3 linked regions of the Homo sapiens genome follow. The protein of the gene in region 2 interacts with the protein of the main gene of each other region in a biochemical or structural test. Each region holds a gene or a part of one and is shown on either strand. Other genes may lie near its edges.

Region 1 (3,818 bases), on a different chromosome or scaffold from region 2:
TTTCTTTAACACCACTTTTAGAAATAAATCAGTAACAGGAAAAAAAAATACCCTTCTAAAACAACATGATGTAGTGCAAAGTACAATGGGATAGGACTAGGTGTGAGGAGTCCTGGTTTTCTAGTTCTGGTTACATTATTAAATTGCTGTATGACTTGGGCTCACTGGATCAGTTTTCTCATTTGTTGAAAAAAGTGTGTGTGAATGGGGAGGGGCTTAAAGTTGTTACCCAAAATTCTCGTTTTGAGCCACTCCTCTTGTTTCATCCTTCTAATCAGGAAACTCAATGTTCTCTAAGGTCTAAATTCCGAAATATGAAACACATCTGAAATTGAATGGAACGATTCAATCTCCAACCGGATGGCACAAGATACAAAGGGTGGACTCCTATGAAGTTAACAATGAATCCAATAACTTTCCAGAAATTGTCTAATCCTAACTTCTTAAAGAAGCAGGTGAAATCTGGTTTGGCATACCTAATATTACTTAAAGGAGTTATAAAATGGTATTGCTTTGTTGAAATTTCCGTGTTTTCTGGGTTCCAGTGGCACATACTCTGCAGGTGCTAGCAAAGTGGAGAGAAAGGGATCCAGCCAGTATTTCAACAAACCACACTTCAACCCAGTCACCGCAGTATGATCCCGACAAGGCCTACACCACAGAGCAGAACCTCCCCACCCCCAGAATTGCCAGCAGCCAATGTAATGAATGCTTCCGTCAACAACACACATTCCCCTTCCCACAGCAGAACTGCTCGCTCCCAACCGGCCATCTGGGGTTGGAATTGGCCGCACAGCACCAAACTAAGAATCATTCTCGGCCCCAAAAGCCAAGAGCTACCAGAGATTGAGGTTTCCCTGCGCATGGCTGCGGGGAGAGCAGCACCCCCTCCCACCAATGGGGGGAAAAAAAAAATCAGTGGGAAGGAGAGTAGAAACCAGGCCTAGGCAAGGTTGCTAGAGAAATAAATCTTGTTTCTCTTTAACGAAGAGCAATAACATTTCTTGCACCCTCTCTAATCCGAAGAGAGCCCAGGCTCTTGCACTCGACTTCATTCCCTCCTGGAATCCTAATGGGAGATTAAAAACCACCTTCCTTCCCCGACCTATCCACTCCTCAAACCTGGCATTGTTAAGGAACGTACCCCCAGATCAAGCAGTAAGAGGTGAAGCGAGAGCTAGAACAAGGGCCCAGATTCTAGGACCAAGCGGCTCTTGCAAGAAAATCCCCTTGTGGCCTGAGAATAAAGTTTTAACCAGCAGCAAGGGCGCGGGCCGAGGCCCGGCCAGGCTGGAGGACAGGCCTGCGGAGGTGACACTCCCTTATTCTCCAGCAGCTCGGGAAGGCGGCGCCCGACCGCCACGGCCCGCACCCTGGGAGCAGGGCGAGGGCGCCGACGAGGGGCCGGGGCCGGGGCCGGGGCTGGCGGGAGGCCTGGCCCGCGCCGCTCCCGCCTCCTTCCCCACTCCCACTTCCCGGCCCCCAAGCCCGGGCCCGTGAGGTAATGTCACGGGTGGCGACGCGGGTCTCGTCCACTGACCACACATTTCTTGCCGAGGAAAGTGAAGAGGGACTCGTTCTCCTGCGGGGTGAGCAACAGGGACCCCACGTTGGTGACCCTCCGCGGCGGCGGCGGCTGCTGCTGGACGGAGCTCATGGTTTCGCCGGCGGGGTTGGGAGTCCAGGGCCGTCTCCTCCGGCGAGTGGGCGAGAGCTCGTTCCCCCTCTCGGTGACAGGGGCGGGGAGAAGTGGAGTCAGAGGCGCCACATCTCGCAGCTCCTCCGGAGCGGGGAGGAGGACGAGGTCGAGGGAAGCAGGCGCTGACGGCGAGCCACCTTCGCGCCGCGCTGAGAAAGGGAAGCTCCCGGCACCCGCCCGGCCAGGCTAGGGCCGGATGGTCGTTGTCCTCGCACTCCGGCGACTGCGCTAAACTCCCAACTCCTCCCCCAACCCTCCCGCAGCGGCGGCGGCGGCCGCACAATCCAACATGGCAGCGGGGGCGGGCGAGACCACAGGACGGAGGGCGCGGGGGAGCGCGCCGGAAACGCGCGGCTGCGGCCCGGGAGAAACCCCCCCACTCGGCGGCGGGCCTCGCGGCGCGGGCCCGAAGCCACGCCCCCTTCCGGCCGAGGCGCGGACCGCGCGGAGCTAAGTGGAATCCCGGTTGGCTTGGGGCGCAGGCTTCCAACTTCGTACTCTGGCCTCTGGCGTCTCGGCTCGTCGGTTGGGTACCCGAACCCAGCTACTGCTGCTTGAAGAGAAGATGGATGGGGACTCCTCGCCGTCGCTGCGCCGCCGGCCTTCCCTGGGCGGACGTACACCTTTGCGAAGCGTCAGTGAGGACCCAGGGCCCCTCCTTGGAATAGCTCTTATTTCTCAAGCGCTGCAGCGTGAAGCTCGCTCTGCGGGTCCGAGAGGCCTGCGATCTGAAGACTGAAAACTGGGAAGAGACGCTCTACCCTGTGCTCCTCGCCGGCTTCGATAGGAGCCGCAGGTGCCTGGGATTTTCTCAAACTTTGTCCCAAACTTCAGCTGTGGGAGTGGAGGAACAAACAGGCCTCTCCCAGAATTGTGAAAGAGATCGCCCTGGTGGATGAAACAAAAACAAATGCACTTGACTTCCACCGCCTGCCTGGCGTGTCACGCGGGTTTAATGTATGTGTCACATTTAAATTCAAAGTATTTTCTTCTAAGGGCCTGGACACATTTCTTTTCTCCCTGTATCGTGAATTGGAAAATACCTTAGGATATTAAAAGTTATCTAAGATAACCCCCTTTCTTCTGTAAGTTAAATACTAAACGGCTTAAGACGAAATTTTGGAATATAGAGATGATGATGCAGACTGCAGTGAATTATCAAATATGCATCTCACTGTTCTCCACATTAAACATATTTTTGTTGCGTAAATTCATGTTAAGACGTCTATAACAATTACACTTTGGTAAAATTGTTGGATGTTAACATCTCTGATAGCTCCCAATAGAAATCTCTGATGTACTAACCAGACTGGTAAACCATTATCATGCACTTTGAAAATATAATAAAATATTATAATTAAAGCTGCCATTAATGAAATAGGCTGAGCAACAATAAATTTACAAAGGAAAATAAAAGTGGATAGCCTTGGGAGTTCTCACATAAAATATGGAGATTTCAAAGTTAAACTTGATTAATTATGTTAGGGTAAAAAGTGAATTAAAGCAACAGGACTATTTATAAAATAATTAGATTTAGAAAGCAGTCGTAGAAATATAAGCCTGGAGTTGCCTCTGAATTACATATTTAACAAACCTAGAAGCTAAATCAGTTTGTCTTTTATCAAAACTGCAACTCCTCTAAGTTGAAAGCACAGTGACAAGAGAAAGCATTACAAATTCTTGAGAAATAATAGAAATTAAAGCTCTTTTCAAACCTGTGAACAAGTATAGTACCAGAAGTATAAGATTCAGATAGGCCCAAGTTGTAGTTCTTGTTATGAGTCTTACAACCCTATGGACTTTGGACAAATTACTTCTCTGCGTCTGTTTCCTCATCTGTAAAATGAAAATAATTTCTGTTTCATACAGGTATAGTCTAAATAGGGATAATTACACCTACTTCAAAGTTGTAAAATACACAATTACAACTAGATAGGAGGTATAAGTTCTAGTGTTCTGTAGCACTGTAGGATGACTATAGTTAACAATATTGTATAGTTTCAAATAGCTAGAAGAAGGATATTGCATGTTCCCAAAACAAAGACATAAGTTTTTGAGATGATAGATATGCTAATTACCCTAATCACTATATGTTATATGTATTGCAACATCACTATGT
Region 2 (3,600 bases):
CCTAGCACTTTGAGAGGCCAAGGTGGGCAGATCACCTGAGGTCAGGAGTTCGAGACCAGCCTGACCAACATGGAGAAACCCCGTCTCTACTAAAAATATAAAATTAGCCGGGTGTGGTGGTGCATGCCTGTAATTCCAGCTACTCAGGAGGCTGAGGCAGGAGAATCGCTTGAACCCGGGAGGCAGAGGTTGCGGTGAGCTGAGATCGTGCCATTGCACTCCAGCCTGGGCAACAAGAGCGAAACTCTCTCTCAAAAAAAAAAAAAAAAAAAAAAGGAAGGGCCTACTAAAGAGAACCACCTGGTTTGAGTGGAGTGGCTCTTTGGTCCTGGGGAATAGAGAGAAAGCCCAAGAAGGGGCTCGACCCCCTCCCTCAGGTTGCCAGCTATTTCCCAGAGTTTACATTCACTCATTCAATAAGTCATGCATTCCACAAGATATTTTCTTGGTGCCAAACCCTGCTTTGGTGCAGGGGCAATGACAGAGATGAATCAGATTCCCAGCCTGAAGGTACTTCTGGTCTAGAAGGAGATGAACAAGACAAATAACCCAGCCACAAGGCAGTCCAAGAACATAGGGCAGGGGGCAAGGATCTCACCTGGGGTATCAGGGAAGCTGCTGGAGGGTGATGATTTGGACTTGTGATAGAAAGGCCAGGATGGAGGATGGAAGCAAAATCACTGACAGACAGTCCTGTTTGCACCCCAGCTGTGCCAGGGGCTGGGGCAATGTGGGTTATTTATGGTTGTGCCTAGAAATAAGCGGCCATATGTGTCACTGCCTATGTGGTGCAGACCTGGGCTGTTGTGGGTAGGGGCAGCTGGGGCTTGAAGCTGGGTCTGGCCAAGCTCCCGGGTTTGCCACCATGTCTCCTACACCCTGATGACCCTTTAACCTTTTCATAGCCTCTTGTAAGGTGAAAATAAGGGGCAGAGGCAGCTCCAACAGGCAGCAAGTGGCCTGGGGCTTGCAGGGGAGGGCAGTGCCCAGCAGCCCATGGCTTCTGTATCTGCGGGGCCTTTTAGCATTATCGCCTCCTTCTTGCCTCCTCCCCCCTCCCCGCTCCCATCCCAGCTGTGGGGGAAGGGGTAGGGGACAGAAGGAAATACCTTTAACCATAAGCCAGACAGGCATCAGCTGCTGTGTTTCTCCCCAGCCCACTCTGATCCATAAATAGCCTATGCACCAAGCTGGCACCAGCCCACCCACCCCTTCTGGTAGCAGTCCAGAGACCCGGACCGCCCGGGCCCAGGCCCCAGCTTCCCAAGGAACCTATTTCCGGCGCTTTTCCTGGGGTAAGGGCCTCCGATGCCAGCTCGCTCCCCCAAGGGACCCAGCGCAGTGGCATCCTGGCACTGCCTGGGTGATGCCCGCGAACTCCGTCCCCTGAAGGCATCCCCGAACGCGCACCCGCTTCTCTCCAGGCAACTGCCCAACCCTGCCCGGGCTCTGGCCCAGGGAGATGTCAGTCCCGGCGCCCACTTCCAACACGCACTCCCTAACTGGACACCCGCACACACAACCCCCCCGCCCTCTATTCAAGGGCCAGACCTCCTACCTGGGGGCAGGAGCTCCGGGGACCATCGGCGGCGACTCGGGGCGAAGCGGGACGTCTGGGGCCCGGCCTCAAGCCCGGCCGACTTCCCGGGGGAGGAGGGGGCTGGCGCTGCCGCCGCCACCGCGTCGCTCTGGGATCTCGCCGGGGCTGCGGGAAGGAGGAAGGTCAGAGCTGAGGCGGAGAGGGGGGAAGGATGAGGAGGAGGCGTGCACCGAGCAGAGCAGATTAGAGAGGCATTTTTAGCGAGCCAATGGTAGCGCGGGCAGGGCGGCGCGGTGGCTGCGCAGGTGGACGCGCCGCGGCTGCCGGGGAGGCAGCAACCAGTTTGGCAGGCGCCGGGGGTGGCGGGTGGCGGGTGGCGGGTGGGGTCCGGCTCCCCGCTGCTTCAGCCGACCCCTGCCCCAGCAGTCTTGCCTGGCTCCCTCTTCTGGGGGCTGCCCGCGGCCCCGCGCGTGCCGGGAGCCCTCCGGTGCGCCCTCCTCCCCAGCCCTCCCAGCTGGCGCGCTCGGAGCCCGGGATGTTGCTCCCTGCCTCTCTCCCCATCTCCCCATCGCCTTGGCCTTTCCTCCTCTCCCGAGCCTCGGCGTCCCTTGGTGCGTGCGGGTGCCTGTGTGGTGGGTGTGTTGAAGACGTGCGTGTGAGCTGACTTGGGAGCGACACCCCCTGCACCACCGCCCCACTGATGCCCACCCCTGCCCGCAGCTTCTGCCCTGTGACCCCATGGGGCGGGATCGCTAACCCTCATGTCCTAGTTCCAGCAGGACCGGCTGTCGCCAAAGCAAACTCCAGGCCATGTCGTTGGAGCTCTCTAGGGGGCTTGGGGCCTAATAGGGGACCCTCAACGGCCTTCACTCTTCCGAACTTGAGCCCTGAATGCTGCCTGGAGCCTGGACGCTGCAGGGAGGAGCGGGGCACATACCTATTGAAGGCCTGTTCTGTATCAGGCACTGATGAGGGGCTGGGCTGCAGCAGAGGACAGAACAGACCAAAACTCTGCCATCTCATAGTTCACATGTGTGAGGGAAGATAGATACTCAATATCAGCAGCTAAGAGTGTTTTGTTTGGTTTTTGTTGTTGTTGTTTTGTTTTGTTTTGAGACGGAGTTTCGCTCTTGTTGCCCAGGCTGGAGTGCAATGGCACGATCTCGGCTCACCACAACCTCCGCCTCCCGGGTTCAAGCGATTCTCCTGCCTCAGCCTCCCGAGTAGCTGGGACTACAGGCGCGAGTCACCACACCCAACTAATTTTGTATTTTTAGTAGAGATGGGGTTTCTCCATGTTGGTCAGGCTGGTCTCGAACTCCCGCCCTCAGGTGATCTGCCCGCCTTGGCCTCCCAAAGTGCTGAGATTACAGGCGTGAACCACTGCGCCGGGCCAAGAGTGTATTTTAAAGTGGTATGCACAGAGTAGAAAAATAAAGCGGGAGCCAAGAGCGGTGGCTCACGCCTGTAATCCCAGCACTTTGGGAGGCCGAGGCGGGCGGAACACGAGGTCAGGAGATCGAGACCATCCTGGCTAAAACGGTGGAACCCGGTCTCTACTAAAACAAAAAATTAGCCGGGCGTGGTCGCGGGCCCCTGTAGTCCCAGCTACTCTGGAGGCTGAGGCAGGAGAATGGCGTGAACCCGGTAGGCGGAGCTTGCAGTGAGCCGAGATGGCGCCACTGCACTCCAGCCTGGGCGACAGAGCGAAACTCCATCTCAAAAAAAAAAAGGAAAGAAAAGAAAAAAATAAATAAATAAAAATAAAAATAAAGCCGGAGGAAGGGAAAAGAAGTGAGATTGCTCAGGACCAGAATGGGTCCCTGCCCTTTACATGTGTAGGGATTGCGGGGTGGGGGTGGTGGCTGAATTTGAATGTGAGCCCCTCAGGTAGGCATGCAGACTCTAGTTTGCCACAGAGCTCCCTATTGTTTGAGCCTGGGATAATCACATGTTTATATTTCCTGACTTCCCTCTCCACACACTTCACGAGAGGCACTGAAATTCATGCCCCAGTGACCCAGGGCAATGCCTGAATGCAGTATTTATTCGTGCAATAA
Region 3 (3,818 bases), on a different chromosome or scaffold from region 2:
TCAACTTCCAGGAAGAACCGACACGGGCACTCTTAGAGGCCATGCATCTCCGTCTTGAGAGGTGTGTGTGTAAAATTATAGATGTGTCTATATGCACATGCATGGATACTTTATGTATATGCGTGGGTGAAGTCATTTTTACTAATGAGCTCATATTCATCTCCGGAGCACACAGGCAGGTCTTTGGGGGTGGGGGACACCTACTGCCAGAGCGGGGTGTTCTGAGCCCCTTGCTAAGGACTGGTTTAGATCACGTCGTAAACAAGAGGAAGACAAACTCTATGTTGAGCCCAGCGATATGCATTCCAAGGGAATGGCTCTGTTTTACATTCACAGTGTTATTTCTTACAAATGTAAACATCTAGCCAGGAACAACATCTGGCCTGTGATACTGCTGTCTCAGAGCTGCTGACATAACCTGCGGGGGAGGCGGGAGGCGGGTGGGGAGCAGCCAACAGTTCTGAGAACTTTCCCCTCGTTCCCAAACCTTCTAGCGGGCTTTCCAGGAAAAAGCTAGGATGAGAAACAGGAGCCCCCAACCAATACGGAATGGTGATTTTCTTACGTGTTATAATTCAGTAGCTTCCCTTAAGGGCCTCCTCAAACATCGGACCCCTTTCTACCGCTCCTGCTGCCCCGCCACGAGGACGAGGTGGTCCTGGCTGGGGGAGGCCTCTGTTGGGAGCTGGTGGGAAAAGCCTCATACAGGCCTGGCAGAGGCTGCTCAGAGGAGGGGCTCCCTTTCAGCTCCCCCTCACGTATGTGGGCAGCATACAAGTCCACATCTCAGCTGCTCCCCAGCTGCCACATAGGAGAGGGACAGGTGGAAGCTTGGGGGTCTCAAGGCAGCACCTGCACAGAGTTCCAACATTTCCTCCACTTACCACATTCAATACCCAAAACATCGACGGGCATGACCAAACCAAGCCACATGACAGTCGCCAACCTTGCCTGGCTCGCCTCTAGGGCTGAGGAAGCAGAGCCCCTGCCTCGTCTCACAGCCAGTCGGCAAGCAGAGCTCCCAAATCCAGCTCCTACATCAGCAGCAGCCCGGCCATCCAGAATCCACTTCCATTTTAATGACTTGGCTCCTCTGGGCCTGCAAACAGGAGGCTGGTCCAGGGACCTGGCCTGGGGATAGGAGTGGCGGCTCTGACAGGGCCGTGGGGCAGTCTCCGATGAGCACAGATCTGCACTCTCCTGACTAAAAGGGGTCACCGTGCAAGATGTCAGCTGGAACGGGGGCAGAAGGGATGCTGGGCTCTGTCACTAACAGTGCCAAGACACCAAGCTTTGCTGTTGACCGAGAGAGGCTCAGACAAAACACAGCTCAGTGACACTCTTAGGGCATGCATCCATGGAGCAGCAGGTCCCAACACCTGCCAGCCAGCTCCTAGGCAGACGCCACCCCAGGGCTAGCAAGGAACAGGAGTGGGAGGCCCATGTCTCTGGACACAGTGGAGGCTGCTCACAGCCAGGGAGGGCTGGCCTTCTCAGCTGAGTGACAGGGAGGCTGCTGTCCCTGACTGGTGGGTGGAGAACGACAGTCGTCTGTGCCCGAGGAGGAGGGGCTGCAGGTGAGCGCACCCCTAGGATAATGGGGGCCTGTCCTCAGTCCTGCTGTGGCCACCTGCCCACTAACGCCTCTCTACATCCCAGTCACCTTGTGAATGCATAAACAGGAACATGTACAACGGAAATGTCAGCGGGTGCTCAGGAGGGCTATGCCAGTGGCTACAGGAGAGGGAGCGTGGCCGGGGGCCCTGTCCACCACCCCGGACGCTGTCGCATGCAGCACAGGCCTTGCGATTCACATACTTTACACGGGCATAGAAAGAGTTACGTTAAAATTAATCTCTTTACTGATATAATTAAATTTTAAATCCTGAGAAGAAAAGAGAGAAGGGAGAATGGTGCCGGGTGTCTAGCACCCCCAGCCACTGGCCCAGCACAGGCCATGGCATCTGTGCATCCAGACACGGGGCGTGGCATGCACACCCCACCAGGGAGACCCAGGCCAGTGTTCCCAAAGCCTGCTCACGGCACCTTCTACTGCAGGACAGCAGAGGGGCCAACAGCCAGCCTGCAGGAGGGAGGACTTCTGGCCCAGATGCAAGAGCAGCTGCAACCTGGCAACAACCAGCAGGTGACTATCAGGAGAAAGGACCTGGTCACCCACATGGGGTGCAGCACAGCTGCTCCTGCTTTCTGGAAGGCCTCAGGCTCAGCCCCACCAGGACTGCAGACACTCCCTGCCTGGCCACTGCCACAAAGAGCACTTCTGCCACATGGCAGAGACACGCACGTTGCCTGGCCGCCCGCGGCATGTGCGGAAGCCCATAGGGACCAAGCTGGCTCGGTGGAGGCAGGGCACAAGGGCGCAGACTTCCAAAGGCTCCGGCCCCAGCTGCCGCCTCACAGTCTCTCCCACCATGGCGCTCAGCAGGTGGTGACCTTGTGGACATTTCGTAAACAAGTCAGCAGCCGGTGATATGGGCTTCCTGGGGCTGCAACCACCTCAAGCACAGACTGGAAGGCCCTGCGGTCGAGCTCCTCCTCTATCTGGTGTCTGTAGAAGTCTGTGGCGACCAGGCAGAAAAGGTTCACGTCCACCTGCTCCAGCTTGCCCATCCTGCTGATGACATGTGGGAGGCTGGTGCAGGAGTTAAGGAAAAAGGCCGGCAAATGAGGGGAATGCTGCCTCCCTGTCCTCACCTGGGAGTTCCTCTCCTGAAACAGTCTACAAAGGGGTCCAGGGAGCCTGGAGAGCGAGCAGAGCCCCGGAAGGGCCACCTGGATGCCTCCAGCTGCATCAGCGCCTCCACCTCCATTCCTGCAACCCTTGGCTGGCTGGATGCCCTGCAGGCAGGGCACCCACTCGGCAGCACTCACCTGGCCTGGCTCCTGTGCAGCGCTGGTGGCCGGTGCTTCCGCTGGCCTCCACTAGCCCTGCTCCAATGCAGTGAGGGCAGAGCCGTGCCAGGCACGCCGGGCAAGGCTGTGCTGTCAGCACCAGGACAACTGTGCTGCTTGGAGGCTCTTGTGGTCTGTCTTGGGGAAGGGCTGTGGAAAGGGAAACTCCTGGCAGCCAGCATCTGGGGGTGGGAACTGGATCTTTACTTAAGCCTTTCCCCGAGAGGGCGATCGAGGCACAATGACCAAAGCTAATGAGAAGCAGTGTCAGGAGAAGCCCAGCCACACAGAGCCCGCGAGTGGGCGGGACGTCTGCAGAGACCACCGCCCACCCTCGCTCCCCTCACCCAGGCCCTCCACAGAAAGGCCCCTCAGCTGCGACCCTCCTGCCATACACCGGCCCCTCTGAGAGGCCCTGGTCAGCAAATGTCTGGACGTGCTCCTTTCTGTACCCCTGTCAGCATTTTACTTCCCTGGGGCTGAGGGCCTGTCACCCTGGCATCTGTGGGGTTTTTGCAAAGGTTAGGTTTCAAAACCTTATCATGAAACATGAGCCTCGGTGTTGACAAGGGAAACGGGGCCAGCACCAGGGACCCAGAGAGGATACATCGCCGCGACCCACGGGCTGGTGGACGCGCTGACAAAGAAGCAGGAGAGGCTCCACGTGGCCATGGCGACCGGGGCCCTCTGCGTGAAGTTGGAGAGGGACAGCATGACCCAGTCCCGGACCATGGACGACTGCCCGGTGCTGTGCAGAGTCTGAAACACCTGCAAGGAGCAAGCAGGTGCCTGAGTGTCAGGGCTGGGGGGACGGGAAGCACCTGCTGCGCCTGGGTGGCGGGGGTGGGGTGGGGGCCAGAGGCATTGCTGCTTTAAAGCGGAGGAGCTGGGCTCTGCTGGCGAAT

The links.
Region 1: the proteins of PACSIN1 (region 2) and WASL form a complex in vitro, tested with the Homo sapiens proteins (one study listed by BioGRID).
Region 3: the proteins of PACSIN1 (region 2) and HTT form a complex in vitro, tested with the Homo sapiens proteins (2 studies listed by BioGRID and IntAct).

Annotation. Positions count from the first base shown.
Region 1 is NC_000007.14:123,747,078-123,750,895, forward strand, and holds the start of WASL (actin nucleation-promoting factor WASL), read right to left. Parts: upstream 1,927-3,818; 5' UTR 1,658-1,926; coding exon 1,541-1,657; intron 1-1,540. UniProt on the Homo sapiens protein: Regulates actin polymerization by stimulating the actin-nucleating activity of the Arp2/3 complex. Involved in various processes, such as mitosis and cytokinesis, via its role in the regulation of actin polymerization.
Region 2 is NC_000006.12:34,464,229-34,467,828, reverse strand, and holds the start of PACSIN1 (protein kinase C and casein kinase substrate in neurons protein 1), read right to left. Parts: upstream 1,754-3,600; 5' UTR 1,559-1,753; intron 1-1,558. UniProt on the Homo sapiens protein: Plays a role in the reorganization of the microtubule cytoskeleton via its interaction with MAPT; this decreases microtubule stability and inhibits MAPT-induced microtubule polymerization.
Region 3 is NC_000004.12:3,238,681-3,242,498, reverse strand, and holds part of HTT (huntingtin), read right to left. Parts: intron 3,682-3,818; coding exon 3,521-3,681; intron 2,654-3,520; coding exon 2,440-2,653; 3' UTR 1-2,439.